Homo sapiens: one gene and its partners. The protein of the gene in region 1 interacts with the protein of each later gene in a biochemical or structural test. Each region holds a gene or a part of one and is shown in the gene's direction. Other genes may lie near its edges.

The links.
Region 2: the proteins of ARHGAP21 (region 1) and ZNF831 interact in a test that uses a peptide from one of them, tested with the Homo sapiens proteins (one large-scale study listed by IntAct).
Region 3: the proteins of ARHGAP21 (region 1) and SEMA4F interact in a test that uses a peptide from one of them, tested with the Homo sapiens proteins (one large-scale study listed by IntAct).
Region 4: the proteins of ARHGAP21 (region 1) and CAPN6 interact in a test that uses a peptide from one of them, tested with the Homo sapiens proteins (one large-scale study listed by IntAct).
Region 5: the proteins of ARHGAP21 (region 1) and NRXN3 interact in a test that uses a peptide from one of them, tested with the Homo sapiens proteins (one large-scale study listed by IntAct).
Region 6: the proteins of ARHGAP21 (region 1) and TMEM178B interact in a test that uses a peptide from one of them, tested with the Homo sapiens proteins (one large-scale study listed by IntAct).
Region 7: the proteins of ARHGAP21 (region 1) and F11R interact in a test that uses a peptide from one of them, tested with the Homo sapiens proteins (one large-scale study listed by IntAct).

The regions. Positions count from the first base shown.
Region 1 is NC_000010.11:24,598,388-24,601,887, reverse strand, and holds part of ARHGAP21 (rho GTPase-activating protein 21), read left to right. Parts: intron 1-957; coding exon 958-1,242; intron 1,243-3,500. UniProt on the Homo sapiens protein: Functions as a GTPase-activating protein (GAP) for RHOA and CDC42. Downstream partner of ARF1 which may control Golgi apparatus structure and function. Also required for CTNNA1 recruitment to adherens junctions.
Region 2 is NC_000020.11:59,166,821-59,170,320, forward strand, and holds part of ZNF831 (zinc finger protein 831), read left to right. Parts: intron 1-3,041; exon of another isoform or gene 3,042-3,500.
Region 3 is NC_000002.12:74,657,247-74,660,746, forward strand, and holds part of SEMA4F (semaphorin-4F isoform 1 precursor), read left to right. Parts: intron 1-318; coding exon 319-378; intron 379-606; coding exon 607-705; intron 706-3,500. UniProt on the Homo sapiens protein: Probable cell surface receptor that regulates oligodendroglial precursor cell migration. Might also regulate differentiation of oligodendroglial precursor cells. Has growth cone collapse activity against retinal ganglion-cell axons.
Region 4 is NC_000023.11:111,253,484-111,256,983, reverse strand, and holds part of CAPN6 (calpain-6), read left to right. Parts: intron 1-2,580; coding exon 2,581-2,712; intron 2,713-3,500. UniProt on the Homo sapiens protein: Microtubule-stabilizing protein that may be involved in the regulation of microtubule dynamics and cytoskeletal organization. May act as a regulator of RAC1 activity through interaction with ARHGEF2 to control lamellipodial formation and cell mobility.
Region 5 is NC_000014.9:78,176,873-78,180,372, forward strand, and holds part of NRXN3 (neurexin 3), read left to right. Parts: intron 1-3,500. UniProt on the Homo sapiens protein: Neuronal cell surface protein that may be involved in cell recognition and cell adhesion. May mediate intracellular signaling. Functions as part of a trans-synaptic complex by binding to cerebellins and postsynaptic GRID1.
Region 6 is NC_000007.14:141,434,064-141,437,563, forward strand, and holds part of TMEM178B (transmembrane protein 178B precursor), read left to right. Parts: intron 1-3,500.
Region 7 is NC_000001.11:161,011,153-161,014,652, reverse strand, and holds part of F11R (junctional adhesion molecule A isoform 1 precursor), read left to right. Parts: intron 1-3,500. UniProt on the Homo sapiens protein: Seems to play a role in epithelial tight junction formation. Appears early in primordial forms of cell junctions and recruits PARD3.

The DNA.
Region 1 (3,500 bases):
CCAGATTAAAGAGTGAAAAAAAAAACCATTTATAAATAGATTTTTCTACATTAAAAAAAGTATTCCTTAAAAAAATTCTAATTATTGCATTAATTTGGTACTTTTTGTCCTGTGTATCAGCTACATGTAGAATATATTGTCTTACGTTTTGGCAATGTAAAAAGGAAATCTAAGTATTTAAAAAGGAACTCTGCTTTTCTTATTAGTTTATTAGCAATGGGTTATTCCGTTGTCCTTTAGGAAGTGGCAAATCAGTTTTAAATTTTTATGTCTCTTTTCTTAGTTTATTTTAAATTACCTTTATAACTTTGTTTCATTTTATTTTAAAAATATTAAGTTAAACAAATATAAAAATATCAATATATGCATCCAGTAGATTTCAACAGAAAAAGACTTTGCCATAAAAATTTTCTATAATATTTGGACAGCTTATATATAAGAACATTTTAATGCTGTCAGAAGAGTTTAAAAATTTTAAGAAAGCTCACTTTGGATGTGGATAGAGTTGCTTAGCCATATAAAGTTGATGAACTCTGTTAATTAGTTATGTATACAATTGTTGGAGAACTCCTGCAGTATCTGTCATTTGTGTGCTCTAAGACGTAAGTCTTTCACTCAACAGGTTTTTTGGACCGATTTTTAAATTTTCTATTCCGTTACTGTTTTTGATATGTTTTGCTACATTTATTTTATTTGATTAGCTTTGTTCATATTGCCTTCCCAACTAAAGTTGGGATTTCACAGTCCTTGACTTTGATATGAATACACTGCCTAACTCAGTTTATGCTCCACAATTTTTATCCTTCCTCTCCTCACAAATAATGTAGTGAGCTAAATCTGCCACCTGCTACACTAGTTATATGTAAATGCAGAGGAAGGGTGTTGCTTAATGTGCTTATCCTGTCACAAAGATTTAGCCAAATATTGACTATTAAAGAACTGTCGCATGTTTTCTAGCGAGTTGGTGGAAGTATTCGGCCATGGAAACAGATGTATGTTGTCCTTCGGGGTCATTCACTTTACCTGTACAAAGATAAAAGAGAGCAGACGACTCCGTCTGAGGAAGAGCAGCCCATCAGTGTTAATGCTTGCTTGATAGACATCTCTTACAGTGAGACCAAGAGGAAAAATGTGTTTCGACTCACCACGTCCGACTGTGAATGCCTGTTTCAGGCTGAAGACAGAGATGATATGCTAGCTTGGATCAAGACGATCCAGGAGAGCAGCAACCTAAACGAAGAGGTGGGTGTTCAAAGGAATGCTGGAGAAATCTGACCCTTTCACAACACTTTCTTACAAAGATCTAAGGAATATGATATATCATTTTTATAAAAAAATTATAATGTGCTATTTTCATGTAAAACAGTTGATGAAAAGGAAAACTCAAACATACCTGTTTTATATTATTTTCACACATTGGAAAATCACCATCACTGAACTAGAAAAATAGGTTATTTATATATGCTGTATACCTTCTCAGAAGCAATGAACTACATTCCTAGTCCTGGTTGTTTGTGACCAAGTTATTCCAGATCCATTTCCATCTTTCAAAGACAGGATTGTTGTAGGGCTTAAGTTACAGTAAAAATACTTACCAGTATAAATAACTATATAAATGCAGAGTGATACTGATGATTTTTGTTAAGAGAACTATACAGTCAAGAATATGGAATAGCCTACTGTCACACAATAGTTAGTTTCTAAGAAAACTTGCATTTTCAAAAATCATAAGTCAGCTTTTTTTTTTTTTTTTTTGAAACGAAGTCCTGCTCTGTTGCCCAGGCTGGAGTGCAGTGGCGCGATCTTGGCTCACTGCAAGCCCTGCCTCCCGGGTTCACACCATTCTCCTGCCTTAGCTTCCCCTGTAGCTGGGATGACAGGCAGCCGTCACCATGCCCGGCTAATTTTTTGTATTTTTAGTAGTGATGGGGTTTCACCGTGTTAGCCAGGATGGTCTCTATCTCCTGACCTTGTGATCTGCCCGCCTCGGCCTCCCAAAGTGCTGGCATTACAGGCGTGAGCCACCGCGCCCGGCCCAGCATTTCTTTTTCATGCAGAACAGTGTTTAGGGATTTGAGAATTTACAGCTTATGATCATCAAGGTATTTTCACAGTAGGAATTTCAATAGTAAAGATAGTTTTTAAAGTATGTATAACTATAAACTTTATCAAGCAAATCTAGCAATGATGAAGTAGCAGTTGCTCAAGTATTTTCTTATCATTAACACAGTTTTTTCTTCACTGTGTTCTCACTTTTCATGCCTATTTATTATAACCAAAAAAGGGGCACGAAGTTCTCTTTTAATACTCAGGAATGCCTACATTAAATGTAAACTTATGCAAATTATGTTCTAATTTAGTCATTTCCATTATATCCAATTCAAAGTATTAAAACGTTACACCATAGGAAAAGTGTGCTTTTTTTCCTTTGGTAGTTTACACTCTGCCTTGTTTGTGGTTAAAAATAACACCAGATCTTTATCAGTGCAACCTATGTTGTACAACTACCCGCTATACAGAGGGCATCAGACCTGAATTTTTGCAAAATAAACAGGGAGAATAAGAACTTAGATGTGGATTTCAGCTTTAAGTAATAGTTCAGAGGAGTTCTGTGTAACAGGCACCTACTATGTGTCAGGCATTCTCTCAGGCAGTAGACTGTCATTGTTAAAACTCCTTCAGATGACTTGTTCTGTGACACATAGTGGCTGTTTGGAGGATTGAATGAGATAATGCATGTGAAGAATGCCTGCCAAGTAATAAACATTTACTTAATGTGAGCTATTAGCATCACCATCTAATCTTAAGACACAGGTACACAAGTATTTTCCCCAGTTTTATAGATGAGAAAACAATAATTCACTGAGCACATACCATATGGCAGATACTATTTTAAACATACTACATGCATTAATCTCAGCAACCATATGAATGTGTCCTATTATCATCACCACCATTCTAAAAATAAGGAAACAGTGGCAAAGAGAGGCTAAATAATTTCCCTAAGGTCACACAGTGACTTAAGCATCAGGGGTAGGATTTAAATCCAGGCAGTCTTATTCTAGATCTTAATCATATGATCTCTCAGCTGATAAGTTGGAAGAGTCTATTTAAATTCAAGATAACTTACTCCCGTATTTAAAGACTGTATTCTTTGTAAACTGTATCATCATTCACTATCATCAAAATGAGGCAAGTTAAAAAAAATTGAGAACCCCAGTCAATATCAATGTATAATTGGAATGAATAGGAAAAAAAGGATCACTTTATGGTCAACTCTGGGTTTACCATATAGCATTTCATACAAGGTAACTCACAGAGGTTAAAAAAAAATCATGCAAATTTTGAGCTTTTCTCTTATCTTCTGATAATGTAACTGCCGCTTGTGATACTAGTTGATCCTTGGTTTCACTATCCTTAAAAATTAGTCAGTCACTAACAAATTCTGGCAGTCTGTTTTCATCTTTTATCCACCTATATTATTTGTTTTTCTTTTTGAA
Region 2 (3,500 bases), on another chromosome or scaffold:
ATATTCATTGTTGAAGGGCATCTGGGCTGATGCCAATTTTTGACTATTACAAATAAAGCTTTAGAAACATTCATGTACAAGCTTTTGTGTGAACGTAAGTTTTCATTGTGAAATAAATGCCCAGGAGTGCAGTTGCTGGGTTGAATAATAGTCCCATGTTTGATTTGTTAAGAAATGGCCACCCTTTTTTCCAGAATGGCTGTGCCACTTCACATCCACACCGAAATGGATCCTGGCAACGTGGGCAGTGTTTCCAGATCCTCGCCAGCATTTGCTGTTTCACTATTTTTTATTCTAGCCATTCTGACAGGTGTGAAGTGATATTTTATTGTGGCTTTAATTTATATTTCCCAGGTGGCTAAAGATGTTGAACACCTTTTCGTGTGCTTATCTGCTGGCTGTATACCGTTTTTGGTGATAACTTGCTTCATGTGTTTGCACACTTTCTAATTGGATTGTTGTTGGTTTTTTTTTAACTGTTAAATTTTCATAGTTCTGTATAGATTTTAAATATAAGTCCCTTGTCAGATATGTTGTTTGTGAATACTTTCTCCAGATCTGTAGCTAGTTTTTTATTCTCTTATTATAAGCAGGGGTTTGCACAGAGCAAAAAAAAAAAAATTAACTTCGATGAGGTCCATTTTATTATATTTTCCTTTTATGGCTCATACTTTTTGTTTCAAGTCTAGGAACTCTTTCCCACTTTAGAAGTCCTAAAGATTTTCTCCTGTGCTTTTTTTCCCCTAAGCTTTTACAGTTTTATATTTCACATTTAAGACTGTTTTAAATATTTTGAGTTAATTTCTATATAAGTAAGATGTGAGGTTTAGGTCAAGGTTTTTTTTTTCTTTTTTCTTTTGCCTGCGGAAGTCAATTGTTTCAGCATCATTTGTTGAAACATCTACACTCTCTCTACAGAACTGCTTTCAACCTTTGTCAAAAAATCAGTTGGCTGAGGCAGGAGAATTGCTTGAACCCAGGAGGCAGAGGTTGCACTGAGCTGAGATCGTGCCACTGCACTCCAGCCTGGGTGACAGAGCAAGACTCCATCTCAAAAGAAAAAAAAATCAGTTGGGTATATTTGTGCAGATTGATTTATGTTTTTTTTTTTAATTATTTTGTTCTACTCATGTCTGTGTCTATTCTGACAATACAGTCTTGATTACTTTGGCTATATAATAAGTTATCAAGTTAGGTAGACTGATTCTTTACACTTTATTATCTTTCTTCAAACTTGTTTGAGTTATTCCAGTTCTTTTGCCTTTCTATATAAATTTTAGAATAATCTTGTCTATGCCCACAAAAATATCTTACTAGGGTTTTGATAGGAATTGCATTAAACCTGTATATCAATTTAGGGAGAATTGACATTTTTACTATGTTGAATCTTCCAATGCATGAACACAATATGCCTCTTTATTATTTAGACTTTATTTGAGTTAGTTCATCAGTGTTTTGTAGTTTTCAGTGCGTAAGTCTTGTACATGTTTTATTAGATTTACAACTACATATTTCGTTTTTCATTTAATTTTGGTTTTCAACCATTCATAGCTAGTATATAGAAATGTAATTGACTTTTGTGTGTTGATCTTGTATCCTGTGTCCTTGCTGCACTCACTTATTAGTGCGAGGAGGTTTTTTTTTTTTTTTTTTTGTAGATTCTTTGAGAATTTGTATGTAGACAATAATCTCATCTGCAAGTAGGGATAGTTTTATTTTTTCATTTCCTGCTTGCAAGTCTTTCCTTTCCCTGTATTTTGTATTTCTTTCTTGCTTTATTTTACTGGCTAAAACTTTCAGTCATCTTCTGAATGAGAGTGATGAGAGTGGACATCTTTCTTTTTCCTGATCTTAGGGAGAAAACATTCAGTTTTTCACCGTTAAGTATAATGTAAACTTTGGTGTTTTGTAGATGCTTTTAATCACATTAAGAGATTTCCGTCTATTTCTATTTTCCAACGAGATTTTATTATGAATGGGTGTTGAATTTTGTCAAAAGCGTTTTCTACATCAATTGATATAATTATGTGATTTTTCTTTTTACCCTGTTAATATGGTGGATTATACTGAATGCATTCCTGGAATCCTTGTTCAAGGTGTATAATTTTTTTCTTATCACAGAATTCTATTTGCTGATATTTTGGGAGAGGTTTTGAGTCTGTGTTCATGAGGGATATTCGTCTGTAGTTGTCTTTTCATGCTGTCTTTGTCTAGTTTGGTCGCAGGGTAATACCTAGGTGCTTAAAATTAACTGGGAAGTGTTATTTCCTTTTCTGTTTTCCGGATAAAGTTGCGTCGAATTTGTGTTAATTCTTCTTTTAAAGTTAGAATTCTCCACATCAGGGCCTGGAGACTTCTTAGCAGGGAGCTTCAAAATTGCAAATTCAATCTGATAAATAGTTATAGTGTGATTCTCATGTGATTCAAATGATCTGTTTCCCATTAGGTGGATCATGGTAGTTTGCGCTTTTTGAGGAATTGGTCCACTTCATCTAAGTCATCAAATTTATGTGAGCTGAGTTATTTACGGTATTCCCTTAAGGTCATTTTAATGTCTGCAGGGTCTGTAGTGATAGCCCATTTTCCTTCCTGACATTGATAGTTTGTGTCTTCTCTCATTTGTCCTTTGTCAGTTTTTGTAGAGATTCTAAAGACCAATTTTAGGCTGGGCACAGTGGCTCATGCCTATAATCCCAGCACTTTGGGAGGCTGAGATGGGTGGATCACTTGAGGCCAGGAGTTCGAAACCAGCCTGGCCAACGTGGTGAAATCCTGTCTCTACTAAAAATACAAAAATTAGCCCGGTGTGGTGGTGCGCACCTGTAATCCCAGCATGTTGCAAGCTGAGGCAGGAGGATCAGTTGAGGTCAGGAGTTTGAGACCAGCCTGGCCAACATGATGAAACCCTATCTCTACTAAAAATACAAAAATTAGCCGGGCATGATGGCAGACACCTGTAATCCCAGCTACTCGGGAGGCTGAGGCAGGAGAATGTTTTGAACCCAGGAGGCAGAGGTTGCAGTGAGCCAAGATCATGCCACTTCACTCTAGCCTGGGCAATAGAGCAAGACTCTGTCTCAAAAAAAAAAGGTGAATTTTATTAATCTTGTCCAAGAAAAAGCTCTTTCTTTCATTGATTTTCTCTATTATTTTTCTGTTTTGATTTGACCTATTTCTTCTCCTACCTTTATTATCTCCTTTCTTCCGCTTGCTCTGGATTTATTATGCTTTCCTTTTACTACAGTCAAGTGGGAGTCTAGAGTCTTGATTTGAAACCCTCCCTCTTTTTCTTTTTCTTTTTAAACAATTAATAGCAGTTTATTTTAAAACATTTTTGTGGGTACATAGTAGGTGTATATATTTGTGGGGTACATGAAATGTTTTGATACAGGCATGCAGTGTGAAATCATCACACTGTGGGAAATGCTCCTCTTTTCTAATGTAAACATTTAGTGCTATAAATTTCCCTCCCAGCACTGCTTTAGCTATGTGCCACAAAT
Region 3 (3,500 bases), on another chromosome or scaffold:
AAGGGATGCTCAGTGTATACTGTGTATTGTGGTACACAATTATGTACTGAAAGAAACCTTTCTTGAAACAATATCTACCTCTTATATGTGATACATTTTGATATATTCTATTTCATTAAAAATAATGTTGGTCATGATTTCAGAATTGATTTTATTACTCATTAATGGGTGGGGACCTCCATTTGAAAAACAATGCTCTAGGGGGACTTTTGAAGTTCCCAAATTGATGGAGGTTATAGAACAGTTTAATCTCCTCTAACATCGAGGGAGTTTGATGTTAGGGGAATCTGGGTGAAATGATCACTTCTCCTTTCTCAGATTGACTGGATGGTTCCTGAGGCTCACAGACAGAACTGTAGGAAGAAAGGCAAGAAAGAGGTAGGTGTAAATCTGAGCCCTGTCTTGAGTGTCAGTTGAGACCTTGGCCCAGCCCTGACTCTCAGTCCCCTGTAATGCTTCCATACCAATGGGCCCAGGCAGAGACTCTAACACCATGCCATCACCCATCATCTCTGATCCCAAAGCTGCATCTAACTGTCCTGACGTTACCTTACCCTTCCTCGTACCTGCTGCTTCTGATTCTTTCTAACCGTCTCTGACCCCCAGGACGAATGTCACAATTTTGTCCAGATTCTCGCCATTGCCAATGCCTCTCACCTCCTCACTTGTGGCACCTTCGCTTTTGATCCGAAGTGCGGGGTTATTGTGAGTGACGGTGTGGGAGGAGAGGGAGAGGGTGCCTGCACCAGTGTGAGTTACTTGGGGTGGTGGTGGGAGGATGGGAAGGGTTTTCTGTGAGCGACCATGATGGGGGCATGGTCAAGGCAACCATTGTGCATGATAAGCATTGGGTGTAGGGGCTGTCCTCATGGGATGAGGGTATGTGTAAGCCACTGAGGGAGGGAAAGGGAGGTTGTCTGGAGAGGGTAAGATATACAAAGTGTGAAGAGAGACATAGTGGGATAGTTAAGGAAGTTAGGGATGCTGGTTGGGCTGGGGAAACAACAAATCCAGGGAGAGACTTCAGAAACCAGAAACTCATGTTTCCCTTGCCCTGTGTATGCTTTGTCCAGGCAGCCTGTGTCCATTTCTTAATTAGTACAGCCCATTGCCTGTTTCTTCCTTTCACAGCATGTGACTGTCTCTTACCACCTTCTCCTACTTCCACTGCCAACCTCATTGTATATGGGCTGTGAGTCTCTCCTCTCATGGCTTCTGATGTCACTTCCACTAATGTAATATCTGCTGGCCCCATATTCTGGATCTTGCCTTCAGGGCGGGCACTCTGTCAATCATGTTTTCTTATAGATCCTGTTTATTGCTGCTGAAGGCCTGGACATCACCAGCCTCAAACACAGGCAGGCTTGGGACATGTGTATCCTAATCACATCTAGGCTAGTCATGATCTCTGGGACTGATGACTGTTTCTGAATTCTCAGCTTTTCCCATCTGTTACACAGTAGTCAGCACTGGTCTTTTGGCAGCTCACATTTGTGACAAGCCCCTGGCGTGAGTCAGAAGCCTCACATATCCTTTATATCCAGTGGCTTCTCTTTCTGCTCTGTAGAGCAATAGGAGGGAGTATAACTGCTCCCTTTTTTGACCTCATCCTTAACTGTAGATCTTGTCTTGACTCTTCTGCAGTCCTCAGTAATCCCTGCCACCTGGATCAAGTCAGTGTGTATCTCTAAACCCCTCTTTGTTACATACCACCCTCATATCTCTGGCTTAGGATGCTAATCATAATCATATGCATGATTGCTCCAGTTAGTCCCCCTGGGCTGCCTTGGGGTGGGTTGGACTTATGTTAAGTCCTTTTCATAATGCAGGTGATACACACTCCCTACCAGCATCTGGATAGCTCCCTCATTCTGGAAAGGTTCGCAGTTCAGGGTGTTGGTGAAAATCTCTGTATTCCCTCAGGTAACATTGAGGTCTAATTTCCCTACAGTTCTCCTTAAGTTTATAAGGTAGCAATGGTACTGCCATTGCCATATTTGTCCTTTTCCATTCTGCCAGGCTTGGGGATCCCATGGGTATGAATCCCAGAGCCATGGCTTATAGACAGTGTGATTGTTCTAAGTTAGTCTCCTAGGGCCTTTAATTCTTCCTTGTTTCTCTGAGGTGGGACTCTAGTGGTTGTTACATAAGGTATCTAGACAGAAAATGTTCTTTCTGGACATACCTGTCAGGATTGGTGTGACTTGGATGCCTATCTCTTCTTGAGGAACATCAGCAATGAAGAGTGAAGCCAGGGGTCTGTGTCCTGAGCTCCCAAGAATTCAGCTCTTTTCCTGAACTCTCCTGTCTAGCAGGCTTATGAAATGAGGGCCCATCCTTTGGTCAAGGCTTGTTTGAAGGAGAATATAGAGACTAGCCGCAAGAGGTCAACTCTGGTAACCCTTTGAGCCACATCCTGTCTGCTCTGTAGACGTTTTGAAAGTTCTCTTCTGCCTTAACCTGTCTTATCCTACTACCCAGCAGCCCCAGTCTGCTTGACCAAGTTCTTCCTTTATCCTCACTGCTGAACCTCTCATGTCCTAGACTGATGACTTTGAGACTGTATATAAACAATTATCTGAGAGCTTTGTTCCAGACATAGCAACTTGATCAAAGTTGATTGTGGAGAAATGAAGGTTCTTACATAAAGGAAATTCCAGCATTGGATCTAAGGGCTCCCACTGTGGAGTGCTGTCCTTCAGTGATAGCTCATTGGACATTGGAGGAAAATATCCTAATTTGTTTTGTTGAGGGACCTCTAGCAGTTAACAGAGAAAAATGTTAGACTTCTAACAACAACAACAACAAACAGCAACAATGACAACCATTCAGTTGAGTGTCTGCTCTGATGAAGACTTGGTATTAGGTACTTTACATTAAGGATTAAGTTTAATTCTTATCACCACATCATGATATTTAGGTATTATTTCCATTTTACAAGTAATGAAACTGAAGTTCAGAGAAATTAAGTATTGTCTCTAAGACTGAATAGCTAGCAGAGGCAGAACCAAAATTTAAACCTGTGTTTGTCTCTGGCTCTGTTCCACTATCCTGTCCCTCTAGTCTAGCCTGCAGCCCAGAAGACCTTATCTGTCTTCAATTTCTTGTGGCATTTGATGTGTTTCATGTACTAGGAACCATCTTTCTTTTCTTTGCTTTTTTTCTTAGCCACCTGGGAAAGGTCCTTCCTATGCCTTAAACTCCTCTTGGCCAAGGCCAAAGGACCAGTTCCAACCCATAGCTCAGAGAGAGCCTTCCTGTCCAGCTCCAGCTTTCAGCTTCAGGGACTTTGCTTTACCACAGCTGATTCTCAGAGACTATGCTGCTGACTAACACAATGATGATACAATGAAGAATCTCAACATTCAGATAGATAATATAGTGGAGTGGTCATGTCTCTTTCAGACCCGAGTTAAATGTCATTTTGACCATGCAATAATCATAACCTATCTAGTTAATAGGAGGCTCACCTCTTCAAAGGTTAGAAACCTGGATGATAT
Region 4 (3,500 bases), on another chromosome or scaffold:
AGTTTTGACATTCTATGACTGTTAACTTGTCATGTTTTAAATCTATTGTTAAATAGCCATCACGTATGAAAAGGGGTAAAGTATAACTGGAGAATGGGCCAGTTTATAAGAGGAAATGGAATGTTGTGGGGGGGGGGGTCCCAAATTTACATTCTCTCATGAATTTCACACAGCTTTTAATATATATATTATATGTACATACATGTATATACATAGACACATATAATATATAATAATCATATCCATCTTGGGTCAAGAAGAGAATAATTACCCCATTCCTCAATTTGAATTGTTTATATGTCTTTTTGCTCACTTATGTGACCCTTTATGTCTTCAATAGAAGTTGACATGCCAAAAGTGTTGGCTAAGCCTAGATACCTACTGTGAAATGAAAATTTTATGGAAATTCAAGACACCATAATGTATCTCCAACCACTAATAACTCTACATAAAATTAGCAAATAATTTGCCTTATTAATCTAAAAGCACACTTTTTCATATATCAGTGTTCACTTTATTGTTTTTCCATGTTAGGAAACTATGATATGTATTATCTAGGTCAAATAAATCATTATTTTTTTTTTGGAACGAAGTTTCTCTCTTGTTGCCCAGGCTGGAGCGCAATGGTGTGATCTCGGCTCACTGCAACCTCTGCCTCCCGGGTTCAAGCGATTCTCCTGCCTCAGCCTCCTGAGTAGCTGAGATTACAGGCGCCTGCCACCACGCCTGGCTAATTTTTGTATATTTAGAAGAGATGGGGTTTCACCATGTTGACCAGGCTGGTCTTGAACTTCTGACCTCAGGTGATCCACCTGCCTCGGCCTCCCAAAGTGCTGGGATTACAGGCGAGAGCCACCACACCTGGCCAGAAATTATTTTATACTTTGACATCTTGCTCAAAATAAAATGAAAACACCTGACCTGGGGAGGAAAAACTGTGCTTAGTTTCATTTTAGAAAAGGCCAAAAAAATGAGAAGAAAAAGAACATCAGGGTTTGACTTACCCAACATACCTGCTCTATGTTCAACAAGTGAAAACAAAGGCAGTTTGCAGCCCATAAAAAATATTTTTTAAGATAGAAAATTCTCCTAAAACAAAAAGTAGTTGTGAACTACCAGGCATGCATCTAAAAAAAAAGACCTGAGAATCCAAAGCTGACAACCTATCTAGCCATCTCCTTTTGGCAGAGGGATGCCCAGTTAATCTCCAGCTTGGACTTGTCTTTGCCCAGAATGCCTGCCTATTTCTTTCCAGAGTTATTTTGGCTTTTAAAGAATATATGGAATGTTTCATTCTGTAGACCAGACCCTTCGTCAAGGAGAATTATGGCCATTAAAAAAAGAGGTTTGAGGACCAGAAAAATATAGCTGTCTCTAATACTTTTTAAAAGGATATATGTCTAGATTCCATTTGAGACAAGGATTTATTTCTGCTGCGTAAGCAGAATGTCAAGGTACCGGCCAATGGCCTCCTCGTGAAGCTTTCTCCATCTAGTCAAGAATGCATTGGTATTTCCTGCCTTTGAACTCTTCAAATGCTGATACTCTGAGTCACCCAATTATGTCTTCAACTATGTAGTGTCATGTATGCCACAATGCCTTTGCCCATGCCTTTCTCTCTACCTGTTATGCCACCGTACCCCTCTCTTGTCCAACTGCCTAATTCTAGTCAACTCCAGTGTTAACAACACTATGAATCCTATTCTGACTGTGATCAGGAGAATTATGGGGATTCTTCCTTTAGACATGAATTATGCTTTGAAAATGACTCTACTGTGCCCTATCGCTTTGTGTTATAATTGTATCATTTAGGTATCATTTTCCTACTCCCAGTGGGAAAGGCACAGTTAATATGTTGGGGGGAAGATACACACATACATTCCAAACAAATACTGCCCCCACTCTGCCCAGATCCCCTCAGGACCTTCACTGGGAAGAGTGTCGGTTGAAGTGTTCCTGTGAGTGGTTTATTACCACTTGCTATTAATGCTGCTGTCATCTATATTCATCCACAAATGTAGAAAAATCTGGTTGCTATGGAGACCACTGTTGCTTTTGCTTTATGTTAGAAAAGGGCTTCCTATAAGGTCTCCTAACTGGTTTTCCTAGAGAAGGAGATGAATTAATGTTAACCTTCATTAGACCTTGTCTCTTTAATACAATCTCCCTTCCAAGCACAGGTGCTTCAGAAAATCTCATCCTGGCAAAATAGGATCAGAATGTAATGTACTAATTCCTAGTTATTATTTTTTTGGAAAGTTCACTGCTGTGGTGAAAACTCTCCCAAACCCCAATGATAGCTATGTCTAAGAGCCCTCACCACCGCATGGCACCCAATCTCATGACACCCTCTCCTTTCATTTCTCCTGCCACTTCCAAACATGGGGCTAGATGATCAACTGTTTTTTGGTTTTCCTTATAATCCCCTCAGCCTTCCCTTCATCCCATCTATGGAAATCCTACTTATTTTTCAACCCTAACCTTATCTCCTCTATGAAGGCTGTCCTGCCTAGTTCAGCTCACAGTGACTCTTGAGAAACTCTTCCCAGACTCTCATATAACCAATTATTGTATTCATAGGACATCTGTGATGACCCCCATCTGATTGTGGGCAACATTAGCAACCACCAGCTGACCCAAGGGAGACTGGGGCACAAGCCAATGGTTTCTGCATTTTCCTGTTTGGCTGTTCAGGAGTCTCATTGGACAAAGGTATTATCCCTCCTGTGGGACCTCATTCAGTTTCCACTTTCTTGTCTTCTTTAATAACTTTAGGAAAAAAATCAGCGCATAACTTCCTTAGATTGTTGTATTTCTTGAAAGCAGAGATATTAACTAGGCGACTTCCCTCCATTTCATTATAAGAAGTTTTGCAAACACAGAAAAGTTGAAATAATTTTATAGTGAACACTCATATACCCACCTAGATTCTACCATTAACATTTTACTCTACTTGCTTTGTCATATATGCTCACTGATCTTTGGTTATCATTTGCCGTGCATTGACTCAGTATCTCTGCATATTATGTTATCTGTACCTATTGGGGTATAAAGTCAGTAGAAGCCAGGAAGTCAATAATACATATTAATAACAAAAAAGGTGAGAAATACAGAAGTAGGACTTGAAAAGTTCTAATAAATTATTAATAGTACAAAAATTCCTTTAGCATTCAGGTAGAGGTCAAGGCAATGAAGTGTTAACTTGACTTGGGACAAAGTTAAAACATTTTCCTCAAAAAATAATTTTAGAATATTAATGTGTAGCTGTTATACAAAAAAAATTCCTAAACATGATTTTATTCAAAATGCAAATGAAATCCATATTTAATATAATTGATATAAAATCTCTAGAATGGATATTTAAAAAGCAAACTACAATGGGCCTTGATTTTGATTGGTTTTGCTCTTTAGAATGCCTTGCATTTTAAACATGCAATCATGAATATGTTTATATAGTCCGCTTCTCAACATCTAGTTTATAGATTATTTGTGGAAAGCAT
Region 5 (3,500 bases), on another chromosome or scaffold:
GGTGTGTCTCTAAGGAAGGCACACTTGCAGAGCTAGAGGTCAGGGTTTCATGGCTCGAAGAAGACTGGTGGGCTATATTCCAGCTGAGTGGTGGTTAAGGTTGTCTTCTGACCTTCCTGGGGGAGGAGAAACTGGAATGGAGGAGGACCCCCATTCCAGTGGGGTGCTCAAGGTTCTCAATCCCATATAGCCCTGCCCGTCAAGGGTACTTTCAGGTCCAGCAGAGGCTCCATTCAGAGAGCCAAGCAGCTGGTATCTGGATGCTGACGACTCTGGGAGCCTGTCACTTCTCCTAGACTGGCCTAGCCTTCTTTCTCACGAAGGGAAGCATGAATCCAGACATTGGCCCCAGTGTGCTTCATTTGTGTTTCCAGAGGCTGGTTGGGGGGCATGATGTCATACAATATGGGTGAAGGCCTTCTACCAGTGTCTCTGTTCCACTCTAGGGTTGGTCTTGACCTTGAATGGGAGAAGGATTAGACATTCTAGACAAGTATGAATGTGTGTTTTTTTTTTCAGGGGTGGGGTGGGGCCAGAGAAAATTGGATTCTGAGAAGCAAGGAAGTCTTACCTTTAGCCAAGACCTTGAAGCAGAGCATGAATGCATTTCTGCATGACCTTGAGATGGTGTAGCCAGACGCCCTGGTGTGGGGAGACAGTGTCTGTTTAGGCCTTTGTCCTAGTGTAATTAGTAACTCTCAAAAGTGTCCCGGTTTGGATGATAAAATATATGGCCATCCTTCTTTAAGACGACATCACACACTTTCTCTTAAAGGAATAGAGAGAGGAAGGGGGCATACTAGAGAGAGAAATCCAATTTTAGGGCAGGAAGGTGACTGAGAGTACAGCCTTTCCCCAGCTCTACTTTCACTTACCCCCACTTTCTGAAGGATAAAAACCTGGATCTTCTGAGTATTCCTACTACCAACATGACTACTACTTCTCTCTCAACTACTCTTACTCCCATCCAAGAACTAACCAGGCCAGACCCTGCTTAGCTTCCGAGATCAGATGAGATCGGGCATGTTCAGGGTGGTATGGCTGTAAACCCAACTACTTTTACTAAAGCTTCGATTGGCCAATATTTGAGACCTGACTATGGGCCAGATACTATGCTAAGCACTTGACATGCATTATCTCACATAATCCTCCAACAATCCTGTGAGGTGGGTACTGTTATCATCTCTGTCTTACAAATGAAGTAACTGAAGCCTAAGGAGGTTAAGTAACATGTCCAAGGCCACTCAGGTAGGAAGTGATGACATCATGATTCAAACCCAAAGGGCCTGGCTCTGCTCTGAAGCCTCTGGTCTTAACCACTGTTTCGTACCACCTCCATGGGCCTGTCCTCTGGTTCCGCAAGTCTGGAAACTTGATTCTAAGAGCTGGCCCATTTGCCAGGCAGTCAGCTGACTCACAGCTCTGGGACTTGCTGAAGGTGCTGCTGTCAGTTAGAGGCATTTCAGGCTTAGGAGGAGGGGGCTGCTGGTTGTAGCACTGCTGCTTAGGAGTAATGCTGCTGGTTGTCTTTTGCATGGCACTAAGGAAACTCTGTTTCCCAAGGTGTCCCCGTTACCTTCTTCCTTGCTTCATGCACCTTGTCTGAGGAGGGAGTTGAGGTGATTTGGGGTGGTGATAGGTGGGCAGAAGGTAGAGAACCTGAAGCCTATTTGTCTCTGCTTTGCTGTGTCGCCCTAAACCTGCATGGGACAGCCACACTCCCCATGGCCCTTGCAGCAGGGACTGGCCCTCAGCGTGAGATTTCAGTGAAAGGACAATTATCCAGCACCTGCTTTGAGCAGGGCATCATGCTCTGCTATTTTTCACTTAGGTGGGTAGTGTCCTCATTTATCTGTTGAGGAAACTGGTGATCAGAGGGGTTAAATCGCTTTTTTAGGATTACACAGTGAGATCCTGGGTCCACACTTGGGTCTGAATCCAGGGACTCTGCACCACCCTCCATCCTGAATCATGGAGAAGAGGAGCTGGGAATTGGATCATCTAAAACTGGGGGTAAAAGAGGAAATACTCTAGACAGAGGTCTTCCAATCAGCTCCTGAGGTCTGGATAGGAACTCTGGGGATCATCATCCTTATCAGCCACCTCTAGGCCTGCCTCTACCCCACACCCACAGGGGAAGACACCTGCTGACCCCTGAGCTGGAGGGGTGCTGGTTCTGGCCTGGAGAGAAGGAGGAGATGGGATCATGCACAGCCTCACTGGTGGAGGCGGGATGTTCAGAAGGAGTTACCTCCTTCCCCCGTGGAGCAGGAACATGTGCACTGACAACATCCCCCTACATCTGTGTCACAGGATAAAGGGTGGGAAGGGATGCCAGGTCTGCTGCCTAGATACAGGCAGGGAGGATGCACAGAGGGAATGAGCGGGATCCCCCAGGCTGGAGGACTCCAGGGAGGAAGAAGGAACTTTTTCTTGGTGGAGAGGCAGGGAATAGGAGAAGAACAGTTTTCTGACTGAGAGGATGGTCTGCAGCCCCTAGGCTGAGCTGCATCAGCTTCATTGCAGTCCCATTGAAGACTGTGTTTATTTTTTCCAATAATGTGTTAATTAAACATCGATTTCTGGGTGGAGGAAAGGGAATTGGATTGCCAGAGCTAAATGGAGTGTGGCAAATGGGGAGCGGTTGAGAGGGGCCCCAAGCTGGAGTCAGCATTCTCCAGTGGCACCCCAGGAGGGTCGGAAGGGAACTAGGGCTGCCTCTTCCCCTGGCTCCAAATTTGGAATTGTCAACTCTCCCAGAGCCTTCAGGAGGCACCTTTCCTACTTCTTGGGTGCCAGGGCAGGTGGAGAGGGCTCTTTGCTGAACCCCAGTTCAAGGAGGGAGGAACAATTATTCTCCACCTTCCTCAGCATCTTTGGTTTATAGAGACTGTGTACCCAGTCTCGTGTTCAGCATGTGACATATATTTGTTCTTTGTTTTTTTTTTTTTGTTTGTTTCTGTTTTTTTGTTTTTTTTTTTTTCTTGTTTTAGACAGAATCCTGCTCTTGTTACCCAGGTTGGAGTGCAGTGGCTTGATCTTGGCTCACTGCAATCTTTGCCTCCTGGGTTCAAGGGATTCTCCTGCCTCAGCCTCCCAAGAAGCTGGGATTACAGGCATGTGCCACGACATCCAGCTAATTTTTTTGCATTTTTAGTAGAGACAGGGGTTCACCATGTTGGCCAGGTTGGTCTCGAACTCCTGACCTAAGGTGATCCACCTACCTCGGCCTCCCAAAGTTCTGGGATTATAGGCATGAGCCACTGCACCTGGCTTGGTTTTTAAAATAAACATGGGGGAGGGCGCTTTTATATTCCTACTTTGGAGATGTGGAAACTAAGGCTTAGAGAAGTAACAAGTTCAAGGTCAAAGAGTTGGCAAGGTTTCACAAGAAAAGGAGTCCTAGCGGAGTTGAAAATATCTGAGGTTGGAAGAACAGCCACCTAGAGTCCCAAGCCCCTTTAAAGGGAAAAAAAGAAAAAAAATGAAGCATCCAGTAG
Region 6 (3,500 bases), on another chromosome or scaffold:
ATTGTCTTCATTTTGCTGCTGTTCTGCCTTTTCCTCTGTTTTCTTCTAAGTAAAACACTTTGTTCTCATTCTCCAACAACTCTCACCTTCCCTCTTTTTCTAATTTGCATTTCCATTTTGTTTTTCTGCCCAGCCCACTTTCCCATCCGTGGCCAAGGTGGACACCTCTTATTGACCCATTGTCCACTTAATTCCCCCAGGCAGAACCTTTGCTCCCTGGCGTCTGCAGAGCCTGGGGAACAGTACAGGCCTTCCAATGAGCAAAGCCAGGTGACAGCTGGGCCTCCAGCAAGGTGGGACTCTGCAAAGTTGTCCTGTCTAGTGCTGCTGAATGGGATAGGATTTCTCCTAGAAAGAAACCTCCACACATCGAAAAGAGAAGGGTGCAGAAGATGAATGTGCTGACCGTTTATACCTCCTGTTTGTTTATTTTTATCAGTTTCAGATATTTGTACATTTTTGGGATACGTGTGATATTCTGATAAATGCATAGAATGTATAATGATCAAGTCGGGATATTGAGAATATCCATCACCTTGAGCATTTATCATTTCTTGGTGATGGAAACATTCCAAACCCTCTTTTCCAGCTATTTTGAAGTACACAATACATTTTTGCTAACTGTAGTTACCCTACTCTGCTATCAAACATTAGAACTTATTTCTTCTAACTGTATGTTTGTGCCCATTAACCAATCTTTCTTCATCCACACCCGTCCCAGCCTCTGGTAACCGTTACTGTACTTTGATTAGATCAACATTTTTAGGTCTCACATATGAGTGAGAACATGCAATATTTGTCTTTCTGTGGCCTGGCTTATTTCACTTGACATAATGACCTCCAGTTCCATCCAGGTTGCTGCAAATGACAACATTTCATCCCTTTCATGGCAGAATAGTATTCCATTGTGTATATGTAACACATTTTCTTTATTCATTCATTGAAAGACACTTCTCATGATTTTGGTATAAAAACACATGAATCAATGAAACAGAATAGAGAACCCAGAAATCCACATATTTATAGCCAACTGATTTTCAACAAAGGCAGCAACATACACTGGGGGAAGGACATCCTCTTCAGTAAATGGTGCTCCGGTAAATGGAAAGACTGGATACTCATATGCAGAGGAATGAAACTAGGCCCCTGTCTCTCACCAAGTAAAAAAATAAACTCAAAATGGATTAAATACTTAAACGCAAAATCCAAAACTATACATCCTGTTTAAGGAAGTATAAGCCCCTTACAGGGAAACCTTCTTTTCATTGAAAATAAGCTGTTCTCTCTTTTCCTCTTCCCACCACCTTTTGGCCCTTGAAGATGATGGGGAGTAGAAGCATTGGTAGTAGAGTATCCCATTTCCAGGAGATGATCCAGATGGGATCACATGTCAAGTGGGGACCATTGTCTACTGAGAAGGCAGCTCAGGCCTCGGTCACTCCAGAGTCTCTTGTGGTGGTGGGGAAAGCAGGGACTAAGGTATAGGGCTGGTGGCCATGGAGACAGCATTTGGGGAGATGGAGGGAGAGGACGGCACAGATGATTCAATAAGAAGGGGCAGGAGTGCACCTTCCCTTCTCTGACTGGCTGTGGCTGCCCACGCAGGCCGCTGGCCTCACAAGCTCCTATTGTGATCAAACGATGGTTTCAGCAGTTCCATCTGACACATATGGTAATATGAGCAGGGGGTGCAGTGCTGCATGATAATCAGGCACCCTGGGCAGTTCCCATAAGTGACTGTAAGCATCACTTCTACCTGGCTGGGACAGGCATCCCGGGTCAGCCAGGGCAGACAAGGGCGGCCCTAGTAGAGCAGGAACCTGCCCTGTGGCTCTCAAAGATCTCTGCCTCTGTGACTGGAGCCCTGTCCTCCTTCCTCTGTAGGCCCCTCCTCACCAGAAGGAAGGGTCTGCTGCTGTTCCCCTCCTGTGCCCCGTCTCTCCCCACTCCCCGGCCAACTTCCTCCCTGGCCGGGGGCTGTCAGTGTCTGATGGTCAATGTCAGGACAAGAAGGGTGGTCTGGATCCCTCTACAGAGGGGTCTTAAGCCAAACTGCACCATATGTCTTTTTGTTTGCTCTGCTGGGGTTCCCCATGGGGTGGCTGGAGTGAGAGAGAGGAATGGAGGGGATGGGACCTGGACACCTTTTGAGGTATGTGGTCTCTGAGGTATTCTCCAAAGAGACCTGTGGGGTGTTTGTTTCTCAGGGTTGAGAAAAGATTGTCCAGGCAGGCTGCAGCAGCTGGTGTGCTTGCACGGGGTGTGGATGTGGTTTGCTTCAGGCACTTCCCTTTGACAGAGAGGGACGCCCAAGGATCCTCCAGGCTGTTCTGCAACCCCCTGGGAAGCACAGACCCTGGGGCAGAGGCAGGATAAATAGCTTTGCTCCTGTGTGGAGCCCCACTGGCAGGCTTAGGGCACAGGCTCAGATGTGGATGGGTGGAGAGAGGGCCCAGGGAGCTGTGGTGGGTGTTGGTGAAGGGTAGAGGGGTGGGTGGCATGAGCAGAGGGTCAGAAGGTTGAGCTCTAGAGAAGGGGTGATGGATGAGGAAAGTGTGCCCGGAGCTGGTGGGGGCTGGGGTGCGGTGGGCACGTGGAAGGGTAGGGGGCTTGAGAGCAGCTCTGGCTGCCTCTGCGTGCAGGAGGGCAGGGGTGGGAGCTGGGGAGGAAGCCAAGCCAGATGCTGAGTGGCCAACTGAGCCATGGCAACAGCTCTGCCCTCTCCCTTCTGCTAAAAATACTGCCTTTCCAGACAACCCTCTTCCTCCTGGAGCTGATGGGTTAGCCAGGCGTGGAACAGAGAAGGGCCTGACTCAGAAAGCGGGGCTGACCCGGGGGTGGAGGAGATGGAGTAAGTGCAAGAAAGGGGTCTGCTCTGGAGCTTAGAGGAGAGCAGGAAGTGTGGCTCTCCTCCTGCAGCCCTGCATGCAGGGAAAGCTAAGCCCAGGAGCCAGCTTAGAGTTGAAGGAACAGAACACCAGACCCCCCATGCTGTTAGCTTTCCCTCACCTGCAACCTCCTAGTGAGACCAGGAGAGCCTGGCAGGTGCAGCCTGACTACCCAGATCCAGCAGCCCATTTCTGTGGTTCTCAGCTCCTTGGAGAGGCTGAGTGATGCTGTGTTTGGAAGCTGGGAGTGCTAGACAGGTCTGGGTTCCAGTCTCTGTTCTACCGCTTACTAGCAGTGTGCCTTTCAGCAAATAGGAATAAAGATAGTACCTGTCTCAGAAGGTTGAGATAGATATATAGCTAGGCAGCGCTATGCCTGGCACAAAGGAGGCATAGAAGAAATGGCCACGATATTGTGATGATCTGTCCCTGTGCTTAGGATCTAAACTGCTGTGGCCTGTTTGTGCACACAAGGATAGAGTCACCACAGGGGATCCTCCCTCTGCAAAGATTGTGTGCTCCTATCTGAGAAGGGCAGGTTGCCTTCCTGCTCCTGGAGGGCCACTCCCTCTCTGCACCCACCCCAGGGCTGGGGTATACCCTGGCCCTCAG
Region 7 (3,500 bases), on another chromosome or scaffold:
GCAGCCTTGACCTCCTGGGTTCAAGCAATCCTCCAGTCTTAGCCTCCTGAATAGCTGAGGCTATAGGCAAGTGTGAGTGGTGAGCCATACCTGGCTAATTTTTTATTTTTTTAGTACAGACAGGGTCTCATCTGTTGTACAGGCTGGTCTTGAATTCTTGGCTTTAAGGGATCCTTTTGCCTTGGCCTTTCAAAATGCTGAATGACAGGTATGAGTCACTACACCTGGCCCATATTGGTTTCTAGGGATTGTGGCCTTGGCTGTTAGGATACATCCCACCCCCCTCCAAGTCAGCTGAGTTCAATTTGCACTTGTTCTGTGGACACATAAATGGGCAACACACGTTTCCACCACACCCAAAAATAGATTTAAATGCCATGCACATTTTATGTGATAATAATGAGACTTGTTTATCACATCTGTTAGGTTTGACTAGAGACCCTGGAGATCTCTAAACTCAAACCAGTTTCTGTTTCAGAGATTCAGGAAAGACCTGGATGACCTTGCGTCCAACATAATTGAGGATGAGGTTTCACTATTGTGTGACGGTTGTGGAAAGCAGTATGAGTGAACACATACTGTGAGAGTGGATACACACTAGGGTTTTCCTGGCATTGAGAACCCAGAGTTCATCTGCCTGGACTCCCTGATAAGCAGGGTTTCTGTCTAAAGTCCGGCTGCGTCATTTGTTTCACAATGTAGGGGCGGAACAGGAGGAAGCAGCTGGCTGGCAGGAAGTGGGTGCTGGGCCCCTGAAGTAAGTCCTGCGCTGGAAGGCTCGACCTTCCCTTGCACTGGGAAGATGGGGTGGCGGGGGAGCTGAGCAGGTAGAACCGGAAATTCTGCAGAGAGGGCGGGAGGGAGCCAGGGAGTGAAAGCGAGCCTGTCTTACCCTGCCATTACCACTTTCTGCCATCCTCAGAGGACCCGAGCCAGCTGATCGACATCACTGAAAGTGCAGCCAAGGATGGCTATTTAGACATAGCCCAGCCTGTTGTTGGCCTCACAGAGCCTTCCTCTTGCTCACACATTTCTAAACTGTTCTACCCCAAACCCCGGAAAGGCCCTTCCCTGTGGAACTTCCCTGGCCCATGGAGCCTCTTGATCTTTACGAGGAGGCCAACCCTTATGGGAGTTACTTCAATCTCTACAGGGTGAGTGGTGGGGAGGAAGGGGAAAACCAGAGTGGAAGCTCTAGGTCCAGGTTCTAATTGTATTGCAGTGTGAAATTCACTTGTTAATCCAACAAACATTGGTGTTTACTATGTTCTGAGCACTGTGCTAGAGATTAGGGGGAAAACATGAAGTTAAACTGGGTATGCTGTAGCTGGTGGGGTGAGGAGGCCCTGACTCATCCTTCCTATTGCAGGGCTCCAGCTCCCTGGCAACTGGGGGGTCTTGTGAGTCTCATATGCCCAGAGGGAAGTTTGGATGAATTCTTAGAGAAAACCAGAGAGAGACTGGTTGACTGTTTTCCCTCCTTTTCCCCCTCCTCCTCTTTCTTCTTTTTTTTTTTTTTCCCTAAATGAACAACAGACACCAGGGCCTACTTGAGTTTAGAGGATGGGAGGAGGGTGAGGATAGAAAAACTACCTTTTGGGTACTTTGCTTATTAGCAGGGTAATGAAATAATCTTTACACCAAACCCCGACGACATGTAATTCATCTATATAACAAACCTGCATATGTACCCCTGAGCCTAAAATTAAAGTTAAAAATAAATAAATCGGCCGGGTGCAGTGGCTTACGCCTATAATCCCAGCACTTTGGGAGGCTGAGGCGGGTGGATCACCTGAGGTCAGGAGTTCAAGACCAGCCTGGCCAACATGGTGAAACCCTGTTTCTACCAAAAATACAAAAATTAGCCGGGCATGGTGGTGGGTGCCTATAATTCTAGCTACTTGGGAGGCTGAGGCAGGAGAATTGCTTGAACCCAGAAGGCAGAGATTCCAGTGAGCTGAGATCATGCCATTGCTTTCCACCCTGGGTGACGAGAGCAAAAACTCTGTCTCAAAATAAATAAATAAATAAATAAATAAATAAATAAATAAAATTAATTAATTCAAACGACACAAAAGCAACTCAAGGAAAATTCTTTTTTTCTTTTATTTTTATAGAGATCAGAGCCTCTCTCTTTTTAAAATTTGTTATATTCTTTTTTATGTTGTATTTCTTCTTTTATGTTTTGTTATTGATATCCCTGAGGCATAGAGATGGGATCTTTCTATGTTGCCCAGGCTGGTCTTGAACTCCTGGGCTCAAGTGATTCTCCCATCTTGGCCTTCCAAAATGCTGCGATTATAAGCCTAAGCTGCTGCACTGCACCTGGCCAGAAAATTCTAATAATTAACAGGATATCTAGAAAAAACTAAAGGTTTCTTAGCAAAGTAGTAGAAGGAAGTAGGTCCTTTTCTGTTATGGGTCTGACCTGACCCTTCACGTACAAGGGATGGTTGTTGGTGGGTTCTGTTAAGAGTCTGGAGGCCTCTGCCTTCTGTGACCATCTTCTCACCCCAGCAGTGCTTTGGTGCAGTTCATCGAGCACCTCCTCTGTGCAAAGTGTAGTGCTGGGAGCTGGGGAAGGATACAAGCAGAACTCAAGAAACTGCAGACACGTATTGACTAGGTAGAGTACAGAGCAGCGTGTGCCAGGGGCTGTCAACAAAGTACAAAATGTTTTAGGAGCATAGACGAGAAGAGAGTAACTTTTTAAAGATATAAGCTTTTTGTTTTATTAAAAAAAGTGATACATGCTCCATGTAGAAAAATAGGAAAATGCAAAGGACTATGGAGAAAATAAAATCACATGTAATTCTATTATCTAGAGATAAACACTTATTACTGGTGTTTCATTCTAGTCTTTATGAATTAATGTGTGAGATACGTCTATATTTCCTACAAAATATACTTTTTTTTTTTTTTTGAGGTGGAATCTCGCTCTGTCACCCAGGTTGGAGTGCAGTGGCACAATCTCAGCTCACTGCAACCTCCACTTCCTGGGCTCCAGCAATTCTCTGCCTCAGCCTCCCAAGTAGCTGGGATTACAGGTGCCCACCACTACGCCTGGCTAATTTTTTTGTATTTTTAGTAGAGATGGGGTTTCACCATCTTGGCCAGGCTGGTCCTGAACTCCTGACCACCTGTCTCGGCCTCTCAGTGTTGAGATTACAGGTGTGAGCCACCGCGCCTGGCCCAAAATATACTTTAAGGTCCTTTCTACATTATTCCTAAAGTATGGCTATATCATAATTTACTTATTCACCTTTTGTTGGGCATTTAGATTTCTTTTTTTTCTTTGTTATACTAAATAACATTAAATTGGCTGGGCATGGTGGTTCATGCCTGTAATCCCAGCACTTTGGGAGGCTGGGGCGGACGGATCACTTGAGGCCAGGAGTTTGAGACCAGCCTGGCCAATGTGGTGAAACCCCGTGTCTATCAAAAGTACAAAAATTAGCTGGGTATGGTGGTGTGTGCCTGTAATCCCAGCTACTGGAGAG